Linked DNA regions of Homo sapiens: region 1 is linked to region 2. Evidence: fine-mapped QTL for protein levels in blood plasma. A gene starts in region 2. The other region holds a variant in brackets. All regions are shown on one strand. Distances are between the middles of the regions.

Region 1 (8,334 bases), 23 kb before region 2:
TTACCCTGAACCACAAACAGAATTGCTGCACAGGGGCATATTATATTTATTGTCCTGGACAGTAAACTAGTCCATTCTGGGAAGACATTATTTTTATTATCCTGGACAGTCAGCAAACCTGCTCTGATGGAGATACCAACTTGAAAGACTGCTTGTTAGCCAGACATCCTTGATAGATATTATCGAGTAAGATAATGTTAGTACCTTTGCTCAAAATACATATAGAAATGTAAGAGACTCGTGGAAATTTGTCACTCACTACTCAGCTCCTGGCCTCCACCCTTCTCTGCTGGAGAGCCCCCCCTTTCTTCCCTTCCACCTCTCACTCACTGCACGTTCCTCCAGTTCTCCCAGTGTTCTGGGCCCTGTTTATGCCCATGGTAGATATAACAACAGTAATTCAATCGGGATGAGCAAACCCTGCCCTACTCTTCGGTGCATATGTGTGTGTGACTTTGACTTTGAAGGTCCTTTGACTTTGAAATGTCTCTGTTTGGTATCTGTGCATAGTGAAGCTCTGTGTGTGCATGTACATGGGTGGTGGGAGTGTGAGGCTCTGTCTGTCCACTACCTGCCCATATGTGTGCATTTGTCCTCAAATGCAAAACCTGATGAGTCACCTTCAATACCAAGTATCTCTGATGTGGGCACTGATCCAGACGTAGATTATTTCCTTTCCTGGCTGCCTGTGTCTCTAGCTACACCTTTGACCTTGAATGGCCAACCGTGTGTCTGGGTACTACCCTGGCATCTGCTCTAGTGGGTCCATATCCGAATGCCTGGCCTCTGGGACTGCGCCTGCAACTTTGAATCACCGCACACTGGCTTCTGCATGAATCGCAGTGTTGACCTTGACTGTCATATCCGGTCCTGTGATTATGTCTGAATTACTTCGGCCATATTTGTTTCTCAAATCTGAATATCCACAGATGCTATGTATCTCCCACCCATCTAACCTTTACAGCAACCTCCAATTTACAGACGAAATGGAGGCACAGTGAGATCAAAGAATTTTCTCAAAGTCTCAAAGCTGATATTTTTGAATGCAGGTGGTCAGACTCTGGATATAACCACCATACTCATGTCTGTGAATCAGTGTCTGGGACTCTGAGTGCATATCCCTGTCTCTTCCCTTTGTAATCTTATTAAAGACCCAACCTTGTACATCCAGACCCTGTGTGCAAGTGTGTACCCACGTGACCTTGCACACCCAGAGCCACACTGGAGGTTATGAATTTAGGTTTGAGCTCTTATGTCCAAATCTGTGTCTATGAATGTGTATGTGTGTGCTTACACCCATGCCTGTCCATATTTATATGCACATGTGATCACTTGGGCTCTTATTATATAAGCCACACGTACATGCATATGAATTTCTGCTTAAGGCACACAGTCTATATATGTATCCAAGCCTGGAAACCATCTTGTGCCTGTATGTATGTCCATGACCTTGTGTGGTCACATATGTGTCCTTCCCTGGCATGCTGAGTTTGGCTTAGATCTCCAGATTCTGAGGCCAAGAATGCTACCGTACAAATTGAATGGACACGTCTGTTTGAGGTCTCTGACATATGAAAGCAACCGTCTGTCTAAACCTGTATCCAGTGAACCTGTCTCCATCTCCAATCACAGAGGGAATTTTGCCCTCTGGTCCTTCATTTCCCTTCTGTCTGTCTCTCTCTGGCTCTCAGGAACCTATCACATGTAGGATAGGAGATGAAAGGAGAAGTTCTGGAAAAACAGGCTGCAGCTGTAAAACCTAAAGAGAGGAGAGTGCTTCAAAAATAACAGAGGCTGGGCACAGTGGCTCACTCCTGTAATCCCAGCATTCTGGGAGGCCAAGGCAGGCGGATCACGAGGTCAGGAGATCGAGACCATCCTGGCTAACATGGTGAAACCCGGTCTGTACTAAAAAAACAAAAAACAAAAAACAAAAAACGAAAAACATTAGCTGGGCGTGGTGGCATGCGCCTGTACTCCCAGCTACTCGGGAGGCTGAGGCAGGAGAATCGCTTGAACCTGGGAGGCAGAGGTTGTAGTGAGCCGAGATTGCACCACTGCACTCCAGCCTGGGCAACAGAGCAAGACTGTCTCAAAAACAAAACAAAACAAAACAAAAAAGCAAACAAAACTAACTCCCCCAAAAACCAAAGACTTCCGGATAAATTGTGGGAAAAGCATATGTGAATGGTTTTCACATATGTAGGTACTGTAGGGCACTGGGAAGGGTGGCCACATAGGAAGAAGTCTCTGTTCTCAGGGATCCTCTATTCCTTTCCGCAGAGGCTCAGGATGGCAATGGGGAGGTGTGGGGAGGGGTGAGAGAGACTCGAGAGAGAGAGAGAGATGGGCAGAGAGATGGGGACTGAGATACACAATGACAGAGATGGCCGAGAGAGAGAGATGGGCAGAGAGATGGGGGCTGAGATACACAATGACAGAGATGGCCAAGAGAGATGCAGAGAAAAACAGAGACGGGGAGACACAGAGACAAGAGACAGAGAAGAGAGAGGGAGATCAAGGCCGAAACACAGCCACACAGACACAGCAGAGCCATATACCAAGAGACACAGAGAGACTAGATGGACAGATATACGGTGAGAGACCAAGGCAGCCCCCAGGAAGGTGGTCCCCAATGCCTGTTCATGCAACCTGAACCAGAACCTTCCCTGTCTCTCTCCCTCTGTCCCCAGCCTCATCTGAGGGGAAATGCCCAACTGTTATTCCTGTGGGGCACAGACACCCCTCCCCAGACCCCAGGTCCCCACTCACCGGGTGATGCAGTGAGCAGTAGTGAGCACCCAGTGAGGATGCAGCAGGACGTCCTTGCACTGGAAGTTGCCGAAATGGTACAACCCTGCCAGGGTTGGGAAAGCTTCTCACACTCCCAGCCTCCCACAGTCTGGGACTGGATGGCAATCACAGCATCTGCAGAGGGAGTGCTGGGTCAGGGAGGGCAGGCTTGGCAGGAGGGCCCAGGGACTGGGCTAAGAGAGGGAGCTGGGCTGTGGGTTTGAAGGGGGCAGAGGACCAGGGCTGGGGATCCAGGGACACAGGAGGGCCTGAGATTCTGGACCATTCCTTGGGGTTTGGGTTGGTGGCTGTTCCTGGTGGGGAGACTTTGCTCTGAGAGCAGGGCAAACCCCAGGGATTAGGGTAGGAGACATGAGATTGCCTGGAGCAGGCATTGGGTTGGGAGCAAAGTATGTGGGGTGATTTGGGGTCTTGTCTAGGAGGCTGTGGTGGGGAGATGAAGGACAGAGTGCTTGTGGGTTTATGAGCTTCTTGAGTCTGGGATGTCCTGCTCCTATGGACAGGGGACATTTTCCCAAGTTAGCAGTTTTTTCAGCCAAATTACCTAATATGATGCTACACCCAGATCAGGGTGGCAGGAGAAGAGTCAGGAATGGGGACCTAGGGACAGACACCTGATCCAGTCCCCAAGGCTTCTCCTCTTCCTGGTCAGCACTCTCTGAAGACAGTGGGTCTCTTCTCTACTGGTTCCATGTCTCTGCCATTAGCTCAGATTCCATCTTCTTGTCCTTGTCTTTCCGTCTCCATCTCTGTCTGTCTCTTTGCATGTGTATATTTGTGTGTGTGTATCTTATTTTTTTTCTGTTTCTCTAAAAATCCTGTCTGAGAGAAACTTTACTAGTTGTTCTAGAGGAAGGAAGTCTTAAGGATGAGCTTTCTGAATTAGTTCTGGCATTTCTAGTGTTTGGAATTGGTTCTGTAATGCGAATAAATTAAAGGCACCACAACTCTATTTTCAGTAATACAAACAGAAATAAAAGTCCGTGGTGTAATGTGGCAATAGAGATATGCAAAATAACACCACTGGATATTCCGAATCAAATAAAGGAGAAATGACCAGGGTGATCATGTATATGACACTTTAGAATATTTTTTAAAGTAACAAGCATAATGAAATTGGATGATTGCTTCTAGTTGTGTTGGCAAAAGTGGAAAAAGAAAAGAATGAGCACAGGACTTTAAATTTCCAGATCTCAGACTGAAGAAATAATCTAAAGTTGCTATGTCTATGATGTTGAAAGAAACCTTTATCTCCTGTAGCCACAGAGCTGAGATTTCTGAAAATCAAACCTAGAATCTTATTGTGTGAGTGGCTGAATTACAGTGCTAATTAAATCCTCAGCATGCATGCTGTCTGCCATTAAAGTGAAGGCATAATTGAAAGGGTAGGGATCCCAAAAGTTGGAATGAAGACATGTGGGAAGACTCTGATTATGGTCAGGAGACTGGGGAAAGGGTCTAGTTAGAGGATGTGGCCTGAGGCTTTAAAAATGAAGATCCAGGGGACAGATAGAATGTGGCCAGTGTCTGGCAGGATGTGGGGCACTTGGCATCTATCCTGGTGCCTGAGGAAGCAGTGAACTCTCCCAAGAGGGAGAACCCAAGAGGAAGAGCATGTTGGGGAGGAGGAGAGACAAATGGCGAAAGGAAATTTATTATGCCAAAGGTGGGATGAATTTGTATCTGGAAGGATCCAGCTAGAGCCAAGAAGGTTCAGCTTCAGCTTGGCTTACACTATCCCCAGAAAAGTTCAACTCAGCCTTGTTCCCTCTTCTGTTATTTTGCTGTGCCCAGCTGGGGCCCCTCCTAACTCCAAGGGCCAAGAAAGTTCAACTTCAGCTTGGCTTACACTGCCCTCAAAAAAGTTCAACCTAGCCTTGGTCCCTCTTCTGTCATGTGGCTGTGCCCAGCTGGGGCCCCTCCTACCTCCCACCCTTCCATCTCCAGCTGGACAGGTGCAGCCTTAGTGCCCAACTGTTTGTCAAAAACTCTGAAGGGGCTGATATTTTGCCAACTGGCAAACAAATAAGTTAGCCTGCCACAGTTTTATGGATACTGGCAGAACACACTGGATTCTGGATCAAAGGCAAAGGACTTTATT[A/G]CTCACAGCACAGAAGACAGCATGAGCTTTGTGTTCACATCAGTTCGCCTTGACCCTAAGTCCCACAGGAATGATCAGAGAAGTTTAGGAGGATCCTGTGACACGATGCTTTGACCCACAGCTGAGAAACCTGAGCTTAGGAATCCTGAATCGTATGAAGGGACTATTAATATTTGTCCGAGAGGGAGACACATTCTTCGTTATCCCGACCACAAACAGACCTGCTCTGGAGGAACATACTATATTTATTGTACTGAACACTAAACAAATCTGCTTTAAGGGACACATTATTACACTGGTCGGTAAGCAAAGCTGTTTTGTTGAAAATACCATTTGCAAGATGGCTTGCTAGCCAAACATCCTTGATAGTCCAAAGCAATTTTTTTTTCACTTTGAAGCCATGTAGAAACATGAGAGGCCCATGGAGAATTTTCTCTCAGAATCATAATTTAAATTCTCTAACCTTCCCTGCAAAACAAACTTATACTTTCTTCCTTATACCCCTTGTCTGCCACATCTGTTACCCTAGCCTCACCAGTGTGCCAGGCCCAGTTCCCAAAGATGGCAGGAAAAATATGGGGATCTGATCTGGATGTGCCCTATTGTTGCTGTCTGTTTATGTGTGGATTTGACTTTGAGGGGACATATCCACGTTTCCCAGTGTAGAGGCTCAGGGTCTTCTGACTGTGAAAAGTCCTTGTTTGGTACTTGTGCGTAGTGCAGTTCTGTGTGCGTGTGTGTGTGTTGTGTGTGTGTGTATGTGCATGCACATGTGTATGTGGTGGGTGTGCAAGGCCCTGCTGTCCACTACCTGCCCACACATGTGAGCCATGTCCCCATATGGGAAAACTGATGAGTAACCTTCAACACCAAGTGTCTGACTTGGGGGGTGATCTAGAGACAGATAAATCTTTCCTGTCCCAGCTGCCTGTGTCTCCAGAATATGTCTTTCCCCATAAATGCCCAACTCTGTGTCTGGGAGTAGCCAGGAATCTAACCTATGAAGCTGTATTTGAATGTCTGGCCCTTGGGGTTGGTGTCTGCAACTCTGAATCACCACTAAGTGGTTTTATGGATGAATCACAGTATTAGCTTTGACTAACTTTATCTGGGTCTGCACATATGTCTGATTTTGGCTATATTTGTTTTCAAAATCTGAACGTGCACACGTATGTACCATAACTAAGTCATGTGTCCTTGATTAAAATAACTGATATTTATTACTATGCATTACAGTTACTGTGTGCCAGGCATTATCATGCACACCCACACACAGGCATACACACAAAGACACATTTTTCTATTTAAGTCTTAAGGAAACCCCCATGAACAAATGAGGAAATGGAAAGACATTGAGGTCAAATAATTTTCTCAAAGATTCAGAAATAATATGTTTGATCCCAGGTGGTCATACTTTTGGATACAACCACCATACTATAGACCCATGTCTGTGAATTGCTTTTGGAGGGGCTACTCAGGATATGTCCCCTCAAAGTCAAACCCAACACTGCATATCAGTGTCTCTCTCCTGTGTACCTTTACTAAGGCCCCCACCTTGTACGTTCAGACCTTGTGTGCAAGTGTGTGCAACTGGAACACTGGGTATCCAGACCTACAGTGGAGTGTAGATTTTGGTCCAAGCTTCTATGTCCAAAGCTCTGTGTGTGTGTGTGTGTGCGCGTGTGTGCGCGTGTGTATGCACACATACACCTATGTCTTTTTTTTTTGAGACAGAGTTTTGCTCTTGTTGCCCAGGCTGAAGTGCAATGGCATGATCTTGGCTCAAGTCAACCTCTGCCTCCCTGGTTCAAGCTATTCTCCTGTGTCAGCCTCCCGAGTAGCTGGGATTACAGGCATGTGCCACCATGCCTGGCTAATTTTGTATTTTTAGTAGAGAAGGGGTTTCTCCATGTTGGTCAGGCTGGTCTTGAACTCCCAATCTGAGGTCATCCACCCACGTTGGCCTCCCAAAGTACTGGCATTACAGGCGTGAGCCACTGTGCCTAGCCACACCCATGTCTTAACTGTCCACACTTACATACAAATATCAATGTCCATATAGTGACCCTCGAAGCTGAGATCTATTTATATGTTACGTGAAGGTAAGCTGTAAATGCTGTACCTACCAATACCTAAGTTTGAAAGTCTGGTTGTGCATATATGTAGGTCCACAATCTAGTATGGCCACATCTGTGCCCTTGTATGACCCTGAGTTTGGCCGAGATACCCAAACTCTGGGACCAAATTTGTGTGTCATACATACTGAGTGTCACATCCATTTAATATCTGTGACAGATGAATGAGCCTGAATGACTGGCTCCAAGTGACCACTTGTCTGAACTCACTGTATCCAGTGACCTTATCTTCATCCCCAACCACAGAGAACTTCTTGCCCTCTGGTCTTTTCCCCTTTCTCTCTCTTTTGGGAACCTATAACACATGAGATGGGTGGTGGGAACAAAAAAGGATACAGTTCCAGGGAAAAGAGGCAAAAGTTTTTTAAAGCTAGAGAGAAAACAGTATTTTAAAAACATATCAGAGGCTCCTGGAGAAACTGAGGGGAAGGCATAAGTGAAGAATATGTAGGTAGATAAGGGCACAGTCAGGGAATAGGAGGTGAGAAGGACCCTGTCCTCATGGATCCTCTACTCCCATCCCAGAGGCCTAGGACGGTGACTAGGTCCTGGGAACTGAGGAGTGTATGCTCTGCTCCCAATCTTGGCAAGTGATTTTCTTTGAATGTGGACATTTTAACTGTGGTCCTTCATGCACTGTCCCCCGCTGTGAGCTCTCTGAGGCCCACTACCAAACCTGGTAAGAAGGCAGGGGTCAGGGTCCTGAAAAACGTGGCTGGGAGTAGGAACCCATGGGTTCTGTACCTGGAGTTGGAGAAGGCTGAAAGCCGGGAGTCCAAGGTCTTGGAGAAGGAAAATGTTGGGATTCTGGACTCCTGTATTTTAATGGGTTGGGGAGAGAGTCCTTGACTCCTCTGAGGACAAAAGTACTGGAGCTTGGGGACTACAGCCCAATGGGTGTGTGCCCACACATTGGAACTCTTAGCTATCTGAGAGGCAGGAGTAGGGGCCATTGGTACCAGGGCCTCAGGAGGTGGTAAGTGGAATTTCAGATTATCACAGGGCTTGGGGATCCCAGATTGCTAACATTTGGGTCTTTCTGTCTACTCCACACTCAGCTTGTGGGTAACCACTGGCCTGCTAGCTCCCTATAGTTGCTGGGCCAGCAGGAGCCCGACGAGCAGGAACTGCGCAAGCGCGCTGGTTCTAAACAGCTGAAGGGCGTTTGGCGCATCTTCTGACATCATCAGCACTATGAGGATCCCGGCGCACCACTATGGCGTCACTTCGGCGCAACTAGCCCACCATCACCCGTGCGCCTCTCCAGTCACATGTATCACATGG
Region 2 (8,334 bases):
AGTGGTGTGATCTCAACTCACTTCAACCTCTGCCTCCCATATTCAAGCAATTCTTCTGCCTCAGCCTCCCAAGTAGCTGGGATTACAGGCGCCTGCCACCATATCCAGCTAACTTTTGTATTTTTAGTACAGACAGGATTTCACCATTTTGGCCAGGCTGGTCTTGAACTCCTTACCTCAAGTGATCTGCCTGCCTCGCCTCCCAAAGTGCTGGGATTACAGGCATGAGCCACCCTGCCCAGCCTCTTTGTAGAGTCTTGATTTTTCCTGTTTCTCTTCGTGTTTCACCTCTATGAATCTGTGTCACTGTTTCCCTCTGGGTACACAGTTGACCCTTGAACAACCCTGGTTTGAACTGCACAAGTCCACTTATACTTGGATTTTTTCAATAAACACATTAGAAAAATTTTAGGAGAGTTGCAACAATTTAAAAAAATTCACAGACGAACTGTGTAGCTTAGAAATATCAAAAAATTCCAACAAAGGTATATCATGAATGCATAAAACGTATGCATAAATCGACTATTTATGTTATTGGTAAGGCTCCCCGTCAACAGTAGGCTATTTCTAGTCAGGTTTTTGGGGAGTCAAAAGTTATAAGAGGATTTTCTGTTGGGTGGAGGTCACCGCCCTCAGGCCCCATGCTGTTGGAAGGTCAACTGCATTTCTATGTGTGTGTGTTTCTGCCTCCCCATGTCTGTTTCTGTTTCTCTCTTCCTTTGCTTCTCTTTATTCCTGTGTTTATTTCTCTGTTTCTCTCAGTTTCTCTCTCTAGTTGTCACTGTCTCCCTGTGTGTCTCTCCATCTCTGCATCTCGCCATGCGGCCCTGTGTGTCTCTGTCTCCCCCTTCTCCACCCTTCCCTGAGTCGCCTGCCCTCCCCTTTCCCCTCTCTCACGTTGCAGGAGTCCTTCTGGTCTTGCCCTCCGCCGGCGCAGAACATGCTGGGGTGGTACAGCGGGTCATAGAGCTTACTGCAGACCTCCTCAGACACCACCGACACGTTCACGCACTGCAGCACGGTAGGCATTCTGCCTGGGACGCAGAGCTCTGGGTCAGCCCCCGCGACTGGGCAGAGGACCTCCTTGAAGAGGGCAGACACACACCCGTGAGCTCACCGTTCGCCAGCAGACCCCAGCCAGAAACGAGGCAAGAGTTCCCCGCGGTAGGGCACTGCGAAGCAATGCTGATGCTCCGGATGGTGTCAGACTCGGACACGGATTCGTCCAACTTGATGAGCATGAGGTCGTTAGCGAGCAAGGGTCTGTTGTACTCTGGGTGCCGTACGGAGAGGCTGGCCTCCACCATCTGGCTCCCTGGCTCTTGGTCGGCCTCAAGACTGTGCAGGCCCAGCCCGATGGTGTAGGAGCTGTGGGCCACGGAGGGCAGGTCAGTTTTGTGGCAACTACATCCTTACCTCCATTCTCATCTTCAACCCCATTCCCATCCCCATCTCCTAACCCCAACCCCACCCTCTTCGCTAAACACCCTAAGAGCTACTTAACCATGGTCTCAAATCCTCATTCACAAAAATTCAGGGACAAGAACTTGCCTTAGTTCACTAGAGACTCAGCACTGGGCTGAGATTTCAAGTCAGGACTCTCTGAGTCCTTCCGAAGCAAGATTCCCGCCTCCCAGCCCTTCCCTCTGGGGCTCCCCGGATCCAGGCTCATTCCGTCCTCCTCCCAGAGCCTTCACCGCTGTTTCCCCCTGAGCACCCCAAGATGAGCCTGATATTAGGCCCCGCCCCCGGACCCAGGCCCTGCCCACTCCCCCTACCTCTGCACTCACTTCTGGAAACAGTGTGCGGCTGACAGCACCCACTGCGGATGCACCAGGACGCCCGAGCAGAACAATTCGTTTTCCATGACCAGTGCCGCCTGCCAGGGCTGCGAGTGCGGGCTGCAGTCCTCGCCGTTTATGATTTGGCTGCAGCTACCAGAGACGAGCGATCCTGAGGGCGGAGTCAGGGATGGGATCGGGACCAGGAGGCGGGCCCAGGGTTCCTGGGGGTGGGCTTACCGAGCAGGGGCGTGGTCAGAGGTTCAGGAGCAGTCAGGGCTCCTCGGGGCGGAGTCAGGGCTGGGAACGGGCTCAGGAGGCGGGCCCAGGGCTCTTGGGGGAGGGGTTACCGAGCAGGGGCGTGGTCAGGGCTTCAGGAGCAGTCAGGACTCTTGGGGGGCCGAGTCAGGGCTGGGGGCGGGCCCAGGGGGCGGACCCAGGGCTCCTGGGGGTGGGGTTATGGTGCAGGGGTCATGATCGGAGCTTCAGGGGCTGGTCCAGGATATAGGCCTAGGGCTCCCAGGGGCGGTGATCACGGTGCAGGAGCCTGGTCAGGGATTCAGGGTAGTCAGGGCTCCTGGGAGGAGAGTCAGGGCATGGGGGTGGGCTGAGAAGGCGGGATCAGTGCTCCTAGGGTTGGGGTTACAGCGCAGGGGCGCCATCAAGGCTTCAAGAGCTGGGTTATGGCTAGAGGCAGTCTCAGAAGGTGGGACCAGGGCTTCTGGGGCGGAGTCAGGGCTCTGGGGTGAGCTCTGGAGGTGAGACTGGTGCCATCGCGGTGCAAAGCCACGGTCAGGAGGGGTTCAACAGAGGAGTCTAGGCTCATAGCAGTAGGATCGGGTCCTTCGGGGTGAATTAAAGCTCAGGGGGTGGAGTTGTTGCTGGGAGCAAGGATCGGGTCACTTGTCTGCGCAGACTGATGCTCAAAGAGTCGGTCCTGCGCCGAGTCACTCCTATCCTCTCCCAGCCTTGCCCACAGTCACACCAAGCCACAAGCCCATGCACACCAAAACACCGTTTTATAGTCCTGTGAGGTGAGTTCCTTGGGGATGGGAGAGGGGGATCTCAGGACTGAAGACCCAGGAAGCAGGCACAGATTCCCAGCAATGGATCACGCCCCAGGAAGCACAATCTCCTGCACCCTCGGCTTCCCCTGTCCCCATATCATCATTACACTGTTGTCACTCCACCAGATATTCAGAGGCACAAACTGTCAGAGTCTCACAGGTACAACCACACACCCAGGCACACTGCCACACACAAATTTACCACGATACAAGGAGTTGCAGGGGCACAGCCATGGGGGACGGATAACACGGTACCGTCTCACAGGCAGCTTTGCAGTCACAAGCAAGAGGACACTGAGTCACACCTGAACATTAACAAACACTGTGCCCCCAAGCACGGACAGACACACACACGCATACTCAGATACCTGCGACACCAAGGATGAGGTACCCCAGGAACCAGCCCCAGGGATTTCCTGCTGTGGCCATCACGTCAGCACCTGGGGATGAGGACTGAGACTTAGCCGTGTCTGGGGATCTTCAGCCCAAGTCTCTCCATCCCTCTCTTTGTCCCTCCCTTTCTTCCCTCTGGGACGTTATTAGGTAGGCAAGAGCCTAGACCATCTACCCCCTCTCCCATCCATGGACCCAGAACCTAGAGAGACAGATTTAGAGACTGAGAGAGAAAAAGAGAGAGAGAGATGGGAAAAGAGAGAGAGAGAGAGAACTAGGTAGAAAGGAAAGTTTAGAGAAAGCATCTAGCCATCTGTGAATGGGGAGAGATGGTGTCTAGCCACCCACAAACAAGCATGGAGGGAAGACACACAGAGAATCAGAGCCGGAGAGACAGAGTGCTTGAGAGATATCCTCAGAGACAGTCTGAGAGTTAGACATGGAGATATAGATTCAGAGAGACAGAGAGACCCCTAACTAGAGACAGTGACTCCTAACTAGAGACAGTGAGAGATCTGTCTAGAGAGATGTGGAGACAGAAGGCACAGAGGCTGAGAATCCAGCGACATGGAGCTGTAGGGAGAGTTGGATCATGAACACTGCAGGCTTTTAGTGGGGGACCACCAGGCCTCTTACCCGGCCACCTCTGGGCTCCTGGATTCCACTGCTGGGCTGAGCTCCAGCCTGCTGCCTCCCGCAGGGGCCTCCTTGGGGCTTATAAGCATCCTCAGCCTGGGCTGGCCTGCCCCCAGGGGATGTGTTCCAGGGGTCAGGTGCTGCAAACTTCCAGCTCAACTCTCTCAGGCTGCCTCAACTCTGACCAGGCAGTGGTTGGGGGCCCAGAAGGGGCTGGCAGCAGGGTCTAGGGACCCAGGGAGGAGACCCCTGCCCAGATCCTAGACTCCACTCTCCTTTTTCTTTCTCTCTCTCTCTCTCATTCTTTCTCTTTTCATGTTCTTATTCTCTCTCATGAGATACCTCTCTCTTGCCTGTATCTCTCATTTTCTCTTTCTCTTCTTCTTTCTTTCTCTCATTCTCTCTCTCATTATTTTTCTCGTGTTTTCTTTCATTTCCTCTCATTCTCTCCTGTTCTCTCTCATGTTCTTTCTCTTTTTAAATTAAATCTCTCTCTCTCTCTCCCCTCCTCCTTCATCCCTCTCTTTCTGTGCTTCTCCAGCAAATTTCCCCAGGTTCGTATCCAGCCTACATCACGAACTATTTTTGGAACCTTGGGCAAGTGACTGCACCCCTGTGAGCCTGTTTTTCCAACTGTAAAACTGGAGTGACCATTATGCCCCATTTCCCAAGTGGATTCAAAGAGGTAATTCAGGGAAAGGCACACAGTGCCAGGCACATTGTAGGCTCTCGGTGAGCGGGAGAACTAAAAAGTCTTCGCTCAGTGAAAAGCAGCTGAGTGCCTACCACACTCCGAGCTCTGCGGCAGGTGCTGGGGCCACAGGAGGAACCAGCAAAGTCCTCGTCACTGGGGATCGCGTCCTACCCGGGGGCACAGACCATAAAGGAAAACTGCAGGGACCAGCATATAAGGTGGTGGTCGGGGAGACTCAGAGAAGGGGAACATTTAAGCTGAGATCCCAGGGAAGAGGAGGAGGAGGGTCGCCGCAGCAGGGGCGGTTGCGGGGTGCAGGGGAGAACTTGGCTCCAGCCAGAGGAGGGCAGGGCGGGTAGGAGGGCAGGGCGGGTAGGAGCGCAGACCGGGAACCGGGCGGGCCTGCAGGAGTTTACGTACCAGGATTAAGGAGCTTGGGTTTTACTTAAGTGCAATGGATTTTAAGCACGAGGATGGAGTGACATAATCTTATTTACTTTTTAAAAACTTCCAGCTTGGAGAGTGATGGTGGGGGCGGGGCGGGGGGCAGTGGCAACAGCCCAGGTGGGAGGTGACGGGGTCAAGGGAGAAGAGAGGTGAATGGACACGGGGTCCCCTCTGCATGTGGAGCCAAGTTACTGCCCGATGGATGGAAAGTGGGGGGCCAGGAGCAGAGGGGCCAAGGATGGCGTGGAGGCTTGGTCTGCTGGCTTGCGCTCTACGGATCTTGTGGAGACGCATAGGTGCGGGAAGGGGGGTGGGGGGTGAGAGGGTGCCGTAGACCGCGGAGGGTGCACGGAGGGGCAGGCCGAGGTCAGGACTGCCGAGAAACAGCGGGGACTCATCAGGGGAGAGGTGGTGTTTACAGCCACGAGGCCGGGTGAGATCATCCAAGGAGTGGGTGGGTGTAGACCGCGGAGCCGGCGCGGGTGAGGGATAGTGCCCGCAGGTGACCGCGACGAGGCAGGAATGTCTCTGTGTCTCTCTGTCTCTCCTGGGTCTCTAACACTCTTTCCTTCTCCTTCCTTACTTCTTTCCCCCACAGCCCACCCCGTGTGTCTGTCTCTCTTTCTCTCTGGCTCTCTTTTCCTCTGCCTCTCTGGTCCCATCTCTGTCTCTCTCCCCCTTGTCTCTGTTTCTCTCACCTGCCAGACTGGAAGCATCCCAAGTGAGACCCTCCCCCAACTCTGTCCTGGGCCCGTGCGCCCCCAGATAACTCTGGGCAGGACGGGACATAGGCTGGGACCACAGAACAGGAAGCCCTGGCAGGTTTCTGTCTCTGTCTCTCTTTTCCCTGTCCCTGTCCCTTTCTCTCTCTGATCCCTTCTCTCTCGCTCTCCCTCTGACCTCTGTCTGTGACCCTCTGATCTCTGTCTGTCTCTGTCTGCCCCTGTGTGTCTCTCTTTCCTCCTGTCTCTGTCTCACCTTGCCTTCTCTCTCTGTCTGTGTCTCTGCACCTGTGTCTGTCCATCTTTCTCTGTGTCTCTCTCCTCCCATCTCTGTCTCTGTCTGTGGCTCCGCACCTGTCTCTGTCCATCTTTCTCTGTGTCTCTCTCCTCCCATCTCTGTCTCTGTCTCTCTGTCTGTCTCCGCACCTGTCTGTCCATCTTTCTCTGTGTCTCTCTCCTCCCATCTCTGTCTCTGTCTCTCTGTCTGTCTCTGCACCTGTGTCTGTCCATCTTTCTCTGTGTCTCTCTCCTCCCATCTCTGTCTCTGTCTCTCTGTCTGTGTCTCCGCACCTGTGTGTCTGTCCATCTTTCTCTGTGTCTCTCTCTCCTCCCATCTCTGTCTCTGTCTCTCTGTCTGTGTCTCCGCACCTGTGTCTCTGTCCATCTTTCTCTGTGTCTCTCTCTCCTCCCATCTCTGTCTCTGTCTCTCTGTCTGTGGCTTCGCACCTGTCTCTGTCCATCTTTCTCTGTGTCTCTCTCTCCTCCCATCTCTGTCTCTGTCTCTCTGTCTGTGTCTCCGCACCTGTGTGTCTGTCCATCTTTCTCTGTCTCTCTCTCCTCCCATCTCTGTCTCTGTCTCTCTGTCTGTCTCCGCACCTGTCTGTCCATCTTTCTCTGTGTCTCTCTCCTCCCATCTCTGTCTCTGTCTCTCTGTCTGTCTCTGCACCTGTGTCTGTCCATCTTTCTCTGTGTCTCTCTCCTCCCATCTCTGTCTCTGTCTCTCTGTCTGTGTCTCCGCACCTGTGTGTCTGTCCATCTTTCTCTGTGTCTCTCTCCTCCCATCTCTGTCTCTGTCTCTCTGTCTGTGTCTCCGCACCTGTGTCTCTGTCCATCTTTCTCTGTGTCTCTCTCTCTCCTCCCATCTCTGTCTCTGTCTCTCTGTCTGTGGCTTCGCACATGTCTCTGTCCATCTTTCTCTGTGTCTCTCTCTCCTCCCATCTCTGTCTCTGTCTCTCTGTCTGTGTCTCCGCACCTGTGTGTCTGTCCATCTTTCTCTGTGTCTCTCTCCTCCCATCTCTGTCTCTGTCTCTCTGTCTGTGTCTCCGCACCTGTCTCTGTCCATCTTTCTCTGTGTCTCTCTCCTCCCATCTCTGTCTCTGTCTCTCTGTCTGTGGCTCTGCACCTTTGTCTCTGTCTATCTTTCTCTGTCTCCACTTTCCTCCTGTCTTCTCTCATGTTGCTCTGTCTTTGTTTTCCATGCGCTTCCAACACTTCTCCCTTCGCTCTCTTCATTGTGTCTCAACTCAAGTGTTACTTCTTCAGAGCCCTTCCCTGAGCCCTCCCCTAGTCTGATTCAGGGTCTTCACTCCCCTATTTGTTTTTTCATCTTATAGCATCCTACATGCTCCTTTAGAGAATTTGGTACAATGTATACACGTATTATTATGTGTTTCTTTTTCTTTTTTTTTCTTTTTTGTTTGTTTGTTTGTTTCTTTGAGATGGAGTCTCACTGTGTTACCCAGGCTGGAGTAGAGTGGTGCGATCTCTGCTCACTGCAACCTCCGCCCCCCGGGTTCAAGCGATTCTCCTGCCTCAGCCTCCCCAGTAACTGGGATTATAGGTGCCTGCCACCAATTCTGGCTAATTTTTGTATTTTTAGTAGAGATGGGGTTTCACCATGTTGGCTAGGCTGGTCTCAAACTCCTGACTTCAGGTGATCCGCCCACCTTGGCCTCCCAAAGTGCTGGGATTACAGGCGAGAGCCACCGCGCCCGTCTTGTGTGTTTATTTTTCTAGTAGCTGTTTCTTTCATTAGTGTGGGAGCCCCTTGGGGACAGGGCTGGTGTCTGTTATGTTCACTGATAAAAACTATTCACTGCAGATGTGTTGAGTGGATGGATAAAGGGAGATACAAAAATAGAGAGAGACAGACAGGAGAGGGAGAGATGAAGGCTGACGGAGAGAGAAAATAACAACAGACAACAATGGTAGCTTACTATTAATTAACCTTTAGAATATGTTAAATTAATTGTAAGGAGGTCAAGAACTTACCTTATGTCTGGCCCTCTTCTAAGTATTTTAAATGCAATAACAAATGTATTCCTCAAAAAAATCTAAGAAGTAGATGCTGCTATGAACTTTGTTTGACAGATGGAGAAACTGAGGCACAGAGAGGGTAAGTAGTTTACCAAGGTCACAGAAAGACTGAGGCCAAAAGAGAAGAACAGACAGAAGTGGGTAGATGGAGAGTAGGAGAGAGCTGGGAACACACTGAGAGATGTGGCCAAAAAGATAGGAAGACGCTGAAAGAGAGACACGTCTCAGGAATTAGGAATAATCATCACTTTAAAAATAATAAAATATCAGGTTGGGCG

Which allele goes with the higher level. Positions count from the first base shown, and alleles are read on the strand shown. Strength reflects both the effect of a copy and how common the allele is.
For the plasma level of the protein whose gene starts at base 3,934 in region 2, A is the high allele of the variant in region 1 and G is the other (strong association).

Evidence for each region. A credible set is the group of variants that fine-mapping cannot tell apart. PIP is the chance, under the fine-mapping model, that this variant and not a neighbour inherited with it causes the effect. The UK Biobank Pharma Proteomics Project read protein levels with antibody pairs (Olink). The fine-mapping took linkage between variants from a reference panel, not from the people measured, so its PIPs are less certain.
Region 1: its variant is the best candidate, but not a certain one, in a credible set for the plasma level of the KLK4 protein (UK Biobank, PIP 0.57).

Annotation. Positions count from the first base shown.
Region 1 is chr19:50,884,947-50,893,280 of GRCh38, forward strand. It overlaps the pseudogene KLKP1. Among named protein-coding and RNA genes, the nearest start is that of KLK2, 16 kb to the left of the region's middle. RefSeq lists enhancers at 6,125-6,174, 6,245-6,354. The variant A/G (reference allele first, on the strand shown) is at 4,916.
Region 2 is chr19:50,907,462-50,915,795 of GRCh38, forward strand. It overlaps KLK4 (kallikrein related peptidase 4), which reads right to left and starts at 3,934. Exons shown (of 6, transcript NM_004917.5): 1 at 3,878-3,934; 2 at 3,217-3,288; 3 at 1,791-1,953; 4 at 1,118-1,368; 5 at 898-1,034. The coding sequence starts at 3,277.